Linked DNA regions of Homo sapiens: region 2 is linked to region 1. Evidence: fine-mapped expression QTL. Tissue or cell type: adrenal gland. Region 1 holds a variant in brackets; the other region holds the start of a gene. All regions are shown on one strand. Distances are from middle to middle.

Evidence for each region. PIP is the estimated chance that this variant, and not a neighbour inherited with it, causes the effect.
Region 2: BEST3 starts here. The variant in region 1 is fine-mapped to the expression of BEST3 in adrenal gland (GTEx, PIP 0.99).

What each region holds. Positions count from the first base shown.
Region 1 is chr12:69,627,978-69,636,085 of GRCh38, reverse strand. The region is part of intron 2 of LOC105369823 (a long non-coding RNA gene); the gene reads right to left. Among named protein-coding and RNA genes, the nearest start is that of LRRC10, 21 kb to the right of the region's middle. The variant A/G (reference allele first, on the strand shown) is at 3,801.
Region 2 is chr12:69,694,915-69,703,005 of GRCh38, reverse strand. BEST3 (bestrophin 3) reads left to right here and starts at 3,703. Exons shown (of 10, transcript NM_032735.3): 1 at 3,703-3,801; 2 at 5,193-5,359. The coding sequence starts at 5,208.

The DNA.
Region 1 (8,108 bases):
TCCACCCTGAAGGCCAGGAGCATACGACTATCATGGATGACAGAGACATCAGAGAAGGTACCAGGAGTGCCACAGAGTTCCCAAGAGGGAGCCCAGAGCTGCTGATGGCAACAGACACAGCCCCGCCTGTCCCCACATCCCTTTACCTTGCTTCTGCATCCTCGAGTATGCTCTAGAAGTACTCTCTGGGCAATTGGGCAATCTATATTAAAGGACATATCACAGCAAATTGCAGACAGAGTGAACTTTCAAAGCCTCAGGCCTCATTGTTTCATTCATAATTTTTAAAAATCTTAAAATCTTTCAAAAGACTAAAAGCGAAGCCCAAATTCCTCAATATGGCATACAAGGCACCCCAGCTCTGGCCCCTGGTCCCCTCCTCAGCCTCACCTCTCACCACTCCCCTCCTCCTGCCCCAGCCATTCCCCAGCCTCGCTTTGTACTCGCCTTTTCCAGCCTATCTGCCTGTATTTCAGTTCTACCAATGGCCTCGTATCTCTTCCAACCAAAACGTTTGTTTTTCTCCTGAATGAAACCACCATGCCCAAAAATGGCCTCCATTTGGTTGACTTCTACACATCCTTAAGAGGGCGGCTCTGATGTCACTTTATCTAGAAAGCTTTCCCATGCTTTCCAGGCCAGGGCAGGCTACAGAATTCCATATCCTCTGTCTCCCCTATCACAGCACCTATGCCCTATTGGACTGAAGTTCTGTGATGGCACCAAATAGGATGGGACATTTCATTCCGTGTCTAACACACAGTAGGACCTTAATAAATATTTGTTGAATTTGCCTTTTGGAGACCATGAGCTCTGTGAGGCTACAGAGGCTGCAGGCCCAGGACCTGGTGTGATACCTTTCATATGCTAACCATTCATGACTGTTCTTAAATGAAAGCTTTTCCCCTTGTCCCTCCTGCTACCCCGAACCTTTGGCAAACTTTCTTTTGATGTGTGTGTATGTGCGCATGTGTGTTTCCCCTGAGTGTGAAAATTCTAGGGCAAATTGAATTTTGTCTTGATGGTTGCCAAGGCCCAGACATCACATGTTTCAATGTTACTGGCTCCCACTGAACCAAAGGCAGGGTTTAGTTGAAACTAACTCTACTACCATTTGGCTTCCCAAGGAAAAAACTGCTCCAGGCCAGGCACAGTGGCTCACACCTGTAATCCCAGCACTTTGGGAGGCCAAGGCAGGAGGATCACCTGAGGTCAGGAGTCCAAGACCAGCCTGGCCAGCATGGTGAAACCCCCATCTCTACTGAAAATACAAAAATTAGCCAGGCATAGTGGCTTGTGCTTGTAGTCCCAGCTACTCAGGAGGCTGAGGCAGGAGAATTGCTTGAACCCAGGAGGTGGAGGTTGCAGTGAGCCGAGATCATGCCAGTGCACTCCAGCCTGGGCAACAGAGTGAGACTCCATCTCAAAAAAAAAAAAAAAAAGAAGAAAAAAAGAAAAAAACGCTCCACAGAACAATAGGGCCATTTTATCATGTGCTAATGTGGATCTTATTTTACTCCTAAGACGTCCTCCCAGGTCAACCAAATTAAACTTCCAAAGATACTCTCCCTCTTTTATTCCATAGAGTCCTTAAGCATCATGGCAACTCCCAACAACCTAGGACAAAATTCATTGTCAGCTGATAGTTGTGACTAATGCTAGTAAGGAGATATACGAGGCATTTCCTAGACACATCTGAAAGACATGGTGCTGAAAAGTCAATAGGTAAATAAAGCAAAAGAGCCCAGGAGAAACTTAGATGTATTTCCATCATTGTGGCTTTGTTCACATTTATTGCCAGTAATCTGTCTGTAACGTCTTTCTGTGAGCTGGACCCAGTGAATTGATCCCGAGTACAAGGGATGGTCAATACCTCACAGAAGCAACTCATCACCATGGCCTTTGTCATGGCTGAGAAATGAAAAAATAGACATCAGGAAGCCAAATTGCTTGCAACAATGAAAAAAAAGCAAAGCAAAAGGAAAAACTCACACCTTCTCAAAACCGTCCATCCGAGCTAGGGCTGATTGTGTTTTGTGTCACAAGACCAAGGATTCCAAATCAGACTGTCAGTGATTGTGCCTCTGATCCAGAGGGCCTTTCACAGCCAGGTACAAATCACCATGAATGACATGCTCCTGGTAACTGCCAACTCTGGAGAAGCAGCAGGATGAGGGAGAAAGAGCATGGGATGCAGAATAACAGGACCTGGGGTTTTGTCCCATGGTGCCACTTATTGTGTGACCTTGGACAAGCCATTTCAATCCCTCCAGGCCTCAGCATTTCTTATATCAAGCATATAGAACACTTAGATAAAGCATATAGAACACTTTTAGAAAAGCAAAGCATAAGTAGTCGGTACTATGTGATGGCTAATTTTATGTGTCGACTTGGCTGGGCCATAATGCCCAGATATTTGGTCAAATATTATTCTAATATTTGTTTTCTTACAATTCTGGATTGTAGGAAAGGTAAGGAATTAAAAAGAGGAAAACAATGACATCTGGAGAAAGAAAGATATTATTTTCCACTGAGACAGCAATCCTAAGCAGTGGTTCCAGATAGAATTTACTCTGCACCAACAGTGAGGACATTGGGTAAATAAACATAAAGGTGAATATTAGATGAAAAAAGATCTAGGCAAATTAACATCATCTTGCACACTGAATTGATTACAGATGTTAGCATTGACTGAGAAACTTAAAGTATGTCCAATCTATTTCCTTCCCATCACGGATGAGGACTCGAAGGCTCAAGGCTGGAAAGTGGCTGGTCTAAGGTCACACTGTGTGTTCTTAGGAGAGTTAGAAAGAACAATTTCTTCAGAATATGCAACACTGCCTCCTAGAGTTTAGTCCTCCAACTAGCACTGCAATTCAAGGAGGTTATAACACTGTTCTATAATACCACTCCAGTATCTTAGTCAATTGGGCTGCCATAACAAAGTACCATAGACTGGGTGGCTTATACACAACAGAAATTTATTTCTCACAGTTCTGGAGGCTGGAAAGCCCAAAATCAAGGTACTGAAAAATTTGACATCTGGTGAGGGCCTGCTTCCCGGCTTGTAGACATCTAGCTGTATCCTCACATGGTCTCCTGTCTTGTAGTCTTTTAATGAGGACATCATGAAGGCCCCACCCTCCTGACCTAATCTAACCCTAATTATCTCCAAAGACCTCACCTCCAAATACCATCACACTGGGGATCAGGGCTTTAACATAGGGCTTTCAAGGGAGCACAAATACTCAATCCATACCAACTATCAATTACAAAATAAGTAAAATTCTTTCTAAAATACAAATCTTAGCCAGGTGCGGTGGCTCATGCCTATAATCCCAGCACTTTGGGAGGCCAAGGCAGGTGATCACGAGGTCAGGAGTTCGAGACCAGCCTGGCCAAAATGGTGAAACCCCGTCTCTACTAAAAATATAAAAATTAGCCAGGCGTGGTGGTGCGCATCTGTAATCCCAGCTACTCAGCAGGCTGAGGCAGGAGAATTGTTTGAACCCGGGAGGCAGAGGTTGCAATGCGCTGAGATTGTGCCATTGTACTCCAGCCTGGGTAACAAGAGCAAGACTCTGTCTCAGAAAAACAAGAAAGAAAGAGAGAGAGAGAGAGAGAGAGACCAGGAGTGGTGGCTCACGCCTGTAATCCCAGCACTTTGGGAGGCCGAGGCGGGTAGATCACAAGGTCAGGAGATCGAGACCATCCTGGCCAACACAGTGAAACCCCATCTCTACTAAAAATACAAAAAATTAGCCGGGTGTGATGGCGGGCGCCTGTAGTCCCAGCTACTC[A/G]GGAGGCTGAGGCAGGAGAATGGCGTGAACCCTGGAGGCAGAGCTTGCAGTGAACCGAGATGGCGCCACTGCACTCCAGCCTGGGCGACAGAGCGAGACTCCATCAAAAAAAGAAAAAGGAAAGAAAGAAAGAAAGAAAGAAAGAAAGAAAGAAAGAAAGAAAGAAAGAAAGAAAGAAAGAAGGAAGGAAGGAAGGAAGGAAGGAAGGAAGGAAGGAAGGAAGGAAGGAAGGAAGGAAGGAAGGGGAAGAAAGAAAGTAGGAAGGAAGGAAGGGGGAGGGGGAGGGAAGGAAGGAGGAAGGAAGGAAGGAAATCTTTTTCATTCTAAGTACCTTGGTTTGTGGCTCCATTAAATCTAAGAGATGTATAATTTTGTAGCCCTGGGACACGTACTTAGCTTCAGTGCTTTGGTTTTTTTGTTTTAAACTTCATTTTCAGTGACATCTCAGGCTTGATGCCATTTCTTATTAGGATGCCTTAGCCCAGAAATCCTCCCACGCCATGAACCTGTGATTCTGATACCTAGATTTTATTTCATCCAGCAGATATGTAGTGAGCACATGTGATGTGGTGAGCATTGGTCTGAATGCTGGAGATACACAGGGAACCAAAGAAACAAAGTCTCCTCACTGATGGAGCTTACACTGGAGGGTGGGGGACAATAAACACATCACTCAATAAAGTCTATAGCTTGGTAGATGGTGATAGTGCTCTGGAGAAAAACTAAGCAGGCTGGGTGAAAGTGAGCAAAGAATTTTTGTAAAAGTAGCTGAGGAGGACCTCATGAAGAATGGGATGTTTGAGCAATCATATAAAAGATGGGATAGGAAGTCACGCGGTATATGAGAAAGAGTGTTCTAGATAAAGGAGATAGTGCTCTAGGTCAGAGCAGAGGCTCTGAGTCAGGGGAACCATTTTCCAGTCATCAGATCCATTTGTGAAAGGAAAATAAATCTTAGAGCCCCAAAATCACTAAGCCAAAGGGAGAAGTCAAGCTGGAAACTGCTTAGGGCAAACCTGCCTCCCATTCTATTCAAAGTCATCCCTCTGCTCACTGAGGTAAATGCATATCTGATTGGAGAGGCTAATCAAAAACTCAAAAGAGGCCAAGCTCCATGGCTCACACCTGTAATCCTAACACTTTGGGAGACCTAGGTGGGATAGGAAGTGGATCCCCCCACTGACAGTGCTGGGTACATCAGATGACTTGAGGTCAGGAGTTCGAGACCAGCCTGGCCAAGGTGGTGAAACCCTGTCTCTACTGAAAATACAAAAATTAGCTGGGCATGGTAGCAGGCGCCTCTAGTCCCAGCTACTTGGGAGGCTGAGGCAGGAGAATCACTTGAACCCGGGAGGCAAAAGTTGCAGTGCTGAGATGGCGCCACTGCACCCCAGTGTGGGTGACAGAGTGAGACCCTGACTCAATTAAAGCAAACAAACAAAAAAACTCAAAAGAATGCAACTTTTTGTCCCTTATCTATCTATGGCCTGGAAGCCCCCTCCCCACTTTGAGTTGCCCCGCCTCTGCTTCCAATGGTCCGGCCTTTCCGGACTGAATCAATGTTCATCTTACATATATTGATTGATGTCTCATGTCTCCCTAAAGTGTGTGTGCAAAACCAAGCTGTGCTCGGACCACCTTGGACACACGTCGTCAGGACCTCCTGAGGCTGTGTCACTGGCATGTGTCTTTAACTTTGGCAAAATAAACTTCCTAAACTGACTGAGACCTGTCTCAGATAATCCGGGTTCACACATTCATTTGATATTAAAAGCCTACGTTTCTCCTGTTCATGAGAAAGAAAACTTGGTTTCTTCACCGATTCCTGATCCTTCACCTTGTGAAGATGGGATAGGAAGTGGATCCCCCTGCTGACAGTGCTGGGTACATCAGATCAAACACCATCCAGTTGTGCCAGGACAAAGGTCATCCAGCTCAAAGATGATTCTCTCAACCCTTATTCCATCATGCTAGTATTGCCAAGCTGTTTGTAACAAAGGTGAGAAAACAGCCCAGGAAGGAAGAAGCCCACGCACTGCAGTAGGGCTATCGGGGAAGTTTCAGAGTTCACCTCGGGTGGAGGTTTTGGCATCTAAACTGCAACAACTGGGCATGACAATCCTATCAGGCATCATACTCAACTCCGCCTGGATCCCCGAACCGGGCCCCACATACCTGTACACAAATCATCTGCTCCTGCCTCCCTTTCACATTTGGCAACCAGTATGTCCCACATGCTGTTCCAGGAGCAAGACATGCAATGATGCACATGACTGACAACACCCTTCTTTTGTGGCATTTATCCCCATTTGGGGGAAACAGCCAAAACCTGGTAAATGAGTGAACAAGATAATTTCACAGTGTAATGAGGGGTATAAGGAAAATCAACAGAGCAATGTGGTAGTCACCATTAGGGACAGAGGGGTGTCTTACTCAGATGTGATGGGGGCTTTGGAAGGCCAGGGAAGGCCTTCTGAGGAGCTGCCATTTGACCTGATAGTTGAGTATAAAAAGGGTTAGCCATCGGAAGGGTATACCAGATGGAAGGAGCAGTGAGGCCCTGCTGTGGGCAAGCGCTCCGTGCGTCTGACAAATAGATGTGAGTGCGTTTGAATCAAAGCCTTGGGGAGGTGGATGGAAGTGAGATCACACAGGCCTTGGCGTTCAGAGTAGGGAGTTCGGGTTTTATTCCAGGGGCAGTACGAAGCCATTGGAGTTCTTATGCCAGTTTCTATGACCTGATTTACCTTGTTTGTGCAGCACTCTGATTGCTGTGTGAAGAATGGTTTGGAAAGGTGTTAGTGGCTTGGACTGGACTATGGCTCTGGAGGTAGGGAGTGGGGGAGCAGGGGTGAGGAGATTATTCAGGATATATATCAGAGCCATTTGATGAACTGGATATGGTTGAAGAAAGGAGGAATTGAAGGTGACTCCTAAATTTTCCCTCAAGCAAGTAGGTAGTTTGTGGTGCTATTCTGTGAGATGGAAAGGAGAGGAAGACTTGTAGGTTGAGGGCGTGCTAATAAAAAAAGAATAGAGTATTATTTGGGGTATATTAAACCCCATCCAAGTAGAGATGTCGAATAGACAACTGTATATAAAACAAGTCTTAGAGGAAAGGTGAGGGCTAGATAGAGATAGTGGAGCTATCAACCAAAAGAAAGAAGTCATGTTACTGGATGAACTTGGCTAGGAACTTAACCTTGGCTAGGTCCAGAATTCCACCCCCTTTCCATGCAGAGACAGCAGGCTTTCTGACCTGCCCCATCTCTCCTCCCCCTGTCCCCAGGAGATTCCTGGTGCTGTACTGAAGGAAGAATGCCTGCCCTCCTTGCTCACAGGGAGGTTTGATTTGAGTGGCAGGTGCATTCCTGGGAGTGACAAGGTCAGCTTCTACTATCGCTACAGAAAGTTCACCACTTCCAACTCTAAGGCTGATTTCTCTCTCAGCTCATGGCTAGAAACTCACAGATCAGCCAACTAGGAAGTGGCATTTCTGCTTCCTCTTCACATGCCACAGGCACACAATATTGGAACTGTGATGTCTAGTGGAATGGTGAACTCCCAAGTCCAGGAGTGTCCTGATGGTCTAACACTAATGATGAAGGTGATGGTGATGCTGCTAATCACTAACACAGACCATTTACCATGTGCTAGACTTGCAATAAAAATTTTACCCAGATTGTCCCATTTAATGCTCAGACTAATCCTATAAAGTTATACTGTTCTTCTACTGTTTCCCCCATTTTACAAAGAAGGAAATTTATAGAAAAGATTGGTCTCTTCCTGGTTATCTAATCTCCTTCTAACTCCTTGAGATGGACATAAGCTGTCCAAGAGGAAAAGGGAAAAATTTTAAATATATGTTTTGCATTGTAAAGTAAATGTGTCACGTGTTTTGGAAAAAATGGAAAGAAAAAGAAATCACCGGTTATCATTTGAACATGCTTCCTTCCAATCTTTTTCTTTCTCCTTTCATCTTTTTTTCATAACTGTAATCAAGGTATAACCTAAATTAATATATATATATAAGGTATAATATAAATTCTCTATTGAATTTTTTTTTTTTTTGAGACAGATTATCACTCTGTCACCCAGGCTGGAGTGCAGTGGCATGATCACAGCTTACTGCAAACCCTGCCTCCTGGGCTTAAGTGATCCTCCCACCCCAGCCTCTGGAGTAGCTGAGACCTCAGGTGTGCACCACCATGCCTAGCTAATTTTTTTATTTTTTGGTAGAGATGGGGTTTTGCCATGTTGCCCAAGCTGTCCATTGAATAATATTTTTAAAGATCTTTTTTCAAGCAC
Region 2 (8,091 bases), 67 kb before region 1:
CTGGTCTTTGGTTAATATTTGAATACATGTGTTATCTACACACAATTTATGTTCAACTAATCACTCAGAAGAAATTTGACAAGAGACTTCTCATGTCAGTGGAGACATGTCAAATCAGTTTAAAATGAATGTGGGGCTTTCTAAATAGCTGCTTCTCAAGTAGAAGGTGGTATTGGCTACGTAAACTTGTTGTTGTTACTATTTCCTGTTTCCTTAAGGAACAAAGAGATTTATTTTGACATCTATAGGTGAATATCAGGATTCCAAGTGGAAATGATTCCTTGTTCTTTTCTATGAATTGCCCTGTCATTGGAGGTTTACTGGAATCAAAGACAAATGTGCTACTCTGGACTGTTGAAAATCAGAGTGGTCAAAATCACATAACTTGATGTTTACTGTCAAGGGAAAATATGGCTGGTATAGTTATTTCATAGAGCCCTGAAATTGCCTAAGGGTCTATCATATCGTTTGCTATTAATTATAGGGTTAAAATATTTTCCACAAAAGTCTAGCAAGATTAACTTTATGCCAAATGATACCACCCCTCTAGTGTGGCAGGACAGAGTGCCACTGTCTTCTTTATATGTTGTTTTCCTTTTTATTTTTTAATAATCATATTTTACTTTTAGAATCTGGAAAAAAATTTCTAAAGAAACTTTAAAGTTCGATTTAAAAAGTGATATGAGCCTTCAACTTTGCAATCCGGTGTTTGTTGGATATTTTAAAATAAGCTTTAGTGGCTTGTCTCCTCTAAGCAGGGCTATTTCGACAAGGCCTCTTTCAGTACCTGTTAGAAATCACCACCAGATTCAGAGCTCAACAATGGGAGTTTGTTCATTCAATCTGATCATTATTGACTAATTTGCATTTAGAATGCTGTCTCCAACCATTAATTAGTCATTCCTCAAAACAACCCAATGGGAGAGAGGAACATAATTATCCCTGTTTAGAAATGAAACCAACCAACAGTGCGTTCAGTGCCCCACAGAGGCAGATCCCCTAGCTATGCAGTCATGGCTGCTGGGAATATGCCAGCTGTCAGGGCCACCACACAACCAATAGGAGATGCAAGAGTGAGAATTTTACAAAATACCTCCGATGTTCCTATTTCATAAGCATTTGGGTTTAGATTTGCTGAGATTCGTCTTGCAAACCTTTATAAACATAACATCAGATCTATCAGACCACTTTTCATGGCAACACAACATAAGATGTGCAACATTGTATATATGCTTTTTAAATGTTCACAAATTCCCTCAAATAACCAACAGAATTATAATAGTGAAGGTAAGGAATAATCAAACAGCAAATACATACTAAATATTCATTATTCACAGGGCTCCATACTGGAATTATGAACAGGGATGGGGGCAAGAAATTAAAAAGATACCTACAGCCCTGGCTTTGCTCTAATCTAAGGTACCTAGAATTTGATAAAGAATCCAGCGAAATGCATATAAAACTTACTGTTTTAGAAAAATTTAATTATATGTAATCTTAATTTTAGAATAAGCATTTTTTTCTATATCTTTCTCCACAAAAATACATTTTCTTTAAGTTAAGGTGCAAGGGTGCACAAGTTACTTTAGAAGGTTGGAAAAGTCCCAGGAATTGGCCCTGAAATTATTTATTTTATTACTTAAAGAACGCTGGTGAATTCTCTCTTTTAAGAAAGAAAATATGGGGCTGGGCGCGATGGCTCACGCCTATAATTCCAGCACTTTGGGAGGCTGAGGAGGGCGAATCACCAGGTCAGGAGTTCAAGACCAGCCTGACCAATATGGTGAAACTCCCTCTCTACCAAAAATACAAAAATTAGCCAGGTGTGGTGGGACACGCCTGTAGTCCCAGCTACTCGGGAGGCTAAGGCAGGAGAATTGCATGAACCCAGGAGGCAGAGGTTGCAGTGAGCCAAGATTGTGCCATTGCACTCCAGCCTAAGCGACAGAGTGAGACTGTGTCTCAAAAAAAGAAAGAAAGAAAGAAGAGAGAGAGAGAGAGGGAGGGAGGGAGGGAGGGAAGGAAGGAAGGAAGGAAGGAACGAAGGAAGGAACGAAGGAAGGAAGGAAGGAAGGAAGGAAGGAAGGAAGGAAGGAAGGAAGGAAGGAAGGAAGGAAAAGAAAAGAAAGAAACTATGCGCCGGGTGTGGTGGGCTCACACCTGTAATCCCAGCACTTTGAGAGGCCGAGGCAGGCATATCACCTGAGGTCGGGGGTTCAAGACCAGACTGACCAACATGGAGAAACCCTGTCTCTACTAAAAATACAAAATTAGCTGGGCATGGTGGCGCATGCCTGTAATCCCAGCTACTCAGGAGGCTGAGGCAGGAGAATCGCTTGAACCCGGGAGGCGGAGGTTGCAGTGCACCGTGATCGGCACCATTGCACTCCAGCCTGGGCAAGAAGAGCAAAGCTCCATCTCAAAAAAAAAAAGAAAAAATTTCCTAGCTGACCATGGAAGGATAACAAATGTGATGAATCTGGCCGGGTGCGTTGCCTCACGCCTGTAATCCCAGCATTTTGGAAGGCCGAGGCAGGCAGATCACTTGAGGTAAGGAGCTCGAGATCAGCCTGGCCAACATGGTGAAGCCTCATCTCTACCAAAAATATAAAAAATTAGCCGGTGTGATGGTGTGCACCTGTAATCCCAGCTACTTGGGAGGCTGAGGGAGGAAAATCGCTTGAACCCGGGAGGTGAGGTTGCAGTGAGCCAAGATCGTGCCACTGCACTCCAGCCTGGGCGACAGAGCGAGACTCCATCTTAAAAGAAAAAAAATGTGATGAATCCATGTGTTATTATTTCCCACTACACTAAGCCATCAATATATCATGATTCTCTATGTGTTCTTCTAACACACAAACACACACCACACACACACTAACACATAATCGTTGCTTTTAATTGAAGAACATTTTCAACACCTCTCAAGTGGCAAAAATCCTGTTTATATTCTTGTCTGCCCCAGTTTATGGCTTCATAAGAATTTTTTCATCTGTTTTTTGAGGCAGAGTCTCGCTCTGTCGCCCAGGCTGGAGTGCAGTGGTGTGATCTCAGCTCACTGCAACCTCCGCCTCCTGGGTTCCAGTGATTCTCCAGCCTTAACCTCCCAAGTAGGTGGGATTGCAGGAGCCCACCGCCAGACCCAGCTAATTTTTGTATTTTTAGTAGAGACAGCGTTTCACCATGTTGGCCAGGCTGGTCTCGAACTCCTGACCTCAGGTGATCTGCCTGCCTCAGCCTCCCAAAGTGCTAGGATTACAGGTGTGGGCCACCGCGTTCCAGCCCAGTTTTAAGAATTTAATCTTCATTTCAAGCACAAAAAGACTTTTTTTTTTTTTTTTTGGCTGGTGGGGCCTCTTTTTTGAACTCTTTAGGGCCAAATCAACCTTTCTTCCTTGATCCCAGGGTGGAGTCAAATGAATCTAACAGACAAACGGCCCAACATCCTTCATGTCACTGCCAACTTCTCATTCAAAGGGGTACTTGGGGTGGCAGGTGGAGTTATAATTATAGCTTAGAAAAAAGCAGCATCAGCAGCTGTTGCTTCTGTTTGTTCCCAGCTATAACTGTCATCAGTGGCTAAACTGGCATAAACAGGCCTCTACAAGTGGAAAAACATTTAACCCCTGTTCTTGTCACACTCTGGGTCCTCTCAGTGGCCAGAGAACAGAAAGAAAATCTGACTGTGCACGAGCGAAGGGTGACACCGGGCGTGCAGCACCGACCTGAAGGCACCTCTTCGGGGGAGCCCGAAATTTGAAGATTCTCTTTCCTGTCGGAGACTACAAACCAAATAAATAGGTTAGTGCCCAGAGTAAACCTATGCATTTTAATTCTGACCTCTACTTGCTGTGATTTTCATTTTCCTGGCAGAGCTTGAAAAGAAGAGTGAACTACTAAATGAAAGAAAGGAAAGTTAATTAAGGACTGTTATTTAAAACTACCGGGAGTCCATGAGAACAAATTATGAAATGGGTTTAATTTATTATGCTCCTCTCCCAATTTTGGCTGTATTCGCACTAGGCAAATAGACAAGGTAAAGATGGAAAAATAAAACCGGTTTTGTGGCATGAGTCCCATCCTTTTGTAATGCCACTTACTTGTGCCAAAAGGCCCTACCTTCTTTATTAAAATCAGTAATGTTGAAAGCTAAGTTTGTGATTTTAGAAAATGCTGTAAACGTAGCTCCAGAGTTTCATTTCCTTAGGGAAAATAGGCAAATCAGAGTTGAATTGTTTTTCCAGCAATGAGTAAAGATAGAAAATTTTCTTGTTTATGATAAAATGTGTGGTGTAGGCTACTTTACAAAAGAAATCTGCTACAGAATTTATTTTTTGTGTCTAGTACAATTCTATCTAAAAGCTTCATGATTTCAGTCTAAGTAGCTCTATAAGACTCTCCTCATAGATCCTTTTGAGAAAAGTAAGATTTTAAATAAATCTCATTTTATTTGCATATGTTCTATCTTAGCCAGAAATTGAGCAAGATTTTCAAAGATTAGCTTTGCGCTGTCTGTTTCAAAACCTGAATATTTAATGTCTTGGTGAAAAGTGGTGGAATTCCAAAGAACTCACCAAAAACAAGGCTTTTGGGCCCAGTGCTCATCCTAACCACATTCATGAAATGGACTCAAGTAGAAAGAGTTGTAAATAATGACCTCATTTTGTTCAACTCCAAAGAGAATGTGAACCATCCCTAAGCATTTATGTACAACTTGTCATGGGGAAACTGCACCATTCTTATTTATCACTATGACCCAACTTTTTGGCTGACTTTTGAAATGCAATGAGTGCTAACGATGCATTTGGACCTCCACTAGAGAGACATCTACATGCAATCAAACCCACCAAAAGTGCCCCATCAATTAAATTCTCACGAGGGCCTTGTTTGTCTCATTTGTTCATTCAAATATATATTGGCCAATGGCTATATAATCTAAAAATAATATTTAACAGTTAAGGCAAGTTTAAGATGTCTAATATTACTCTTCCCAGAGACTGCTTTCCTCCTGCTTTCTGCTAAACTGAGATAATGGTTATCTGAAAGTTCCGAATTATAGAAACTAAGAAAGACAAAACAGAGATATGGCTGACTAGTTGCTGGCTTGAATTTCCTTGATATACAGACATACAGATTTATGCCCTATTTTAAACATTGCTTTTTACTTGTGTTTTGTCTTCTTGCTCTTCTAGAAAAAACTATCCAAGATGACTGTCACTTACTCCAGTAAAGTAGCAAATGCAACTTTTTTTGGATTTCATAGGTTACTCCTCAAGTGGAGAGGCAGCATCTACAAACTACTGTACAGGGAATTTATTGTTTTTGCTGTTCTTTATACAGCAATAAGTTTGGTATACAGGTACTTTTCTTTACATGTCTCCTTAAATGGCCATCAGATATTGTGTAAGATACAGTCTCAAAAATCTGAACCTTTTGATTGCCACTGACTTCGCATTATGGAACTCCTTTTTTGCGTGAGCCTCTCATTTGTCTTCTTCCCCTCAGGACAGATTTTAATCCACCACTAACCATTGTTAGGTTGTAAAATAGACCCTCACTGTTAAGATTCAGGTGGCCTTCATTCCAGCCCCAGTTGTGCCTCGAGACTGTTGCAATAGGCACAAAATGGAAGGATTATCCTTAGATCTTTACTGTGTAAAGACTTTTGAATGGGCAAAGTCCACAGACAATAATTATTTGTGCTTCTGTCAACTTGTCATTCATAGTTGATGATTTGACAGCTTGTAGCAACTACCTATATAATCAACATGTTCATGATTGGTGTATGTCAGGGAAAAGCTTTCCTTCTTTTGGCCTGGAATGAAAATATCTTATCCAGGATGATGCCTGCCACACTTAACAGTACCTCAACTAAAGCAAAGGCCTGTAGAATAATTTATTTTCTTTCCGTTTTCTGAGTTGAGGGTATATTATGTTCACAAAAGGAGGTGCTTATTCTTTATAACATTACAACATATGCCTGTCAGATTGACAGGAAATTTGAGCAATATCAAGTCCAAGAAATATTTTTATGATGAAAAGTTATAGTCTTAATAAAATTTCATCAGTATGATAAAAGGGAAGACTTATGAGATTTTAAAGCTTTTTTTATTAAAATTGAATGCATAAATTTCTTCTCTGGAGGAAGCTAAAATTTAAAACAGGAAAGCTAAAGGTTTTTGAGGCTGTATTTCCATTTTTTCTATGTTCATAGTTTGTTATTTTTCTTCTGCATACAGATAAACAAATTTGTGTTTCATTGCTCTCACATTCTTCCTTGCAGCAACAGGATCTCCTTTGGAAAAGAGGGATATTAATGTAGTTGACTGATAATTATTAAAAGTAAAATAGGTACAGCTATTTTTCCACATGTCAAAACAACCCTTCCAAGCAAGTGTATGCATTGGTATATATCTTGACAAAATATTTTTAGAGGGAAAGTCCTATTAACAACCTCTAATAATTTTTCAGACATGTCATATAATATGATATTATTTTGGCAATTTAGGTAGGTATCACCTAAGCCTTCAGAATATGAAATGGTAAAAGATACAATGGTGTTTCGTGATAATTATCTCATTAGTTCATTTTTACTAATGTGAATTTATTGCTGCTACTTCTGCTAAGAATAGAACAGAATAGCCCTTAGTACAGTTGCAATGTAGCTAGAAATGTTCCTTGGGGCCTCAACTTTTGTTCCAATATCATACTTATACCCCACAACATTTTATGCATATATTTCTTCTAAAGCAGAGGGCTTACATTTATAACAAAAATTATCAGTTCAAGTCATCCTTAAATTTTTAAAGTTCAATTGTAATACCTTATTAAAATAGATCTTTCTATCTTAATCAAAGGTATACCAAGAACTATAGGATGAGTTTGTCAAGAAAATCAAACACATCTATAGAAAAATATAGATGTAGTTTCATTCTCTAAGTCTTTATTAGCTCTATTATAGGTACATAATTATTCCTAACAAAAATTATAAGGAGGAACCAGATTCATTAATTTGATTACATTTATTTCTATTTTTGGAGGAATTTGACAAAATAATTTCTGAAATACTTTCTAGCTATTAAAATTTCTACATCTATTAGCCAAATATTTTTTCTTTGGCCAACTATTAATATGAACCATTTTATTATTAACTAAGTATGAGGCAATTTGTTAAGTGGTTATATATATGTATACATATATTATTTAATCTTTACAATGCCTCTTATATATAGATATTTTTATCCCCACTTACAGATGAGAAAACTGAGACTCAGAGAGTTCAAAAATATGCTCAAAGTCCAAATTCATAAGTGTCAGACTTGGAATTAAAATCTGGCTTTGTCTGACCTTAAAAAAGGTCCATGCTTTCCACATTTAAATCCTCTTTGACCATGTCTATTTGAACATCAGAAACCATTCTGGCTGTAATTGTCATCAGCATAACCCTGATAGACCTCTGCAACAATCTGGTACCTCTCCTGTCAGCTTTCCCTGACTTCAGTAATTCTAACACCTCTTCCAAAGCTGGGGCAGGAACTCCAAGCTCACCCTGTACCCCACACACCTTCTTTGTCAGGACCAGCTCCCAACAGCTCTCTATCTGCAATCTAATTGGTTGCTTACTGTTATCTCATTATCCCTTTGCTTCCTTTATCAAAGTTCTACTGACCCAAATGAGCCTTTGATGCTTGTTATAATGGATCTTTCCTTGAGTTCCTTCCTCCTTTGGAACAGCTACACTCGTCGATTTATTCAAATTCATCTGTTTGGCTTTCCTTCCTGTATTTTGGTCATTATTATTAGTTTGCCTTAAAACATTTCTCCAGACTCTGAATCTCTTCCCTATAATGTAAATATCAATAATAGTCTCATTAAATGCACTTATGTTTAACAATACCAGAAAATGGGGTTTGGGCAGGTTGGGTTAGATCTATAATATAAATTTTGAGAGAGTGACTAAATTTAATAATGAAAGTTTTCATTTCTCATTGTTAAATTTGTTTTAGACTCCAAACAATTCTGGGCTTTAAAATGAACAGTTATAATATCCCTTGAAGGGATATTATACACATGATAATCAAGAATGTGCTA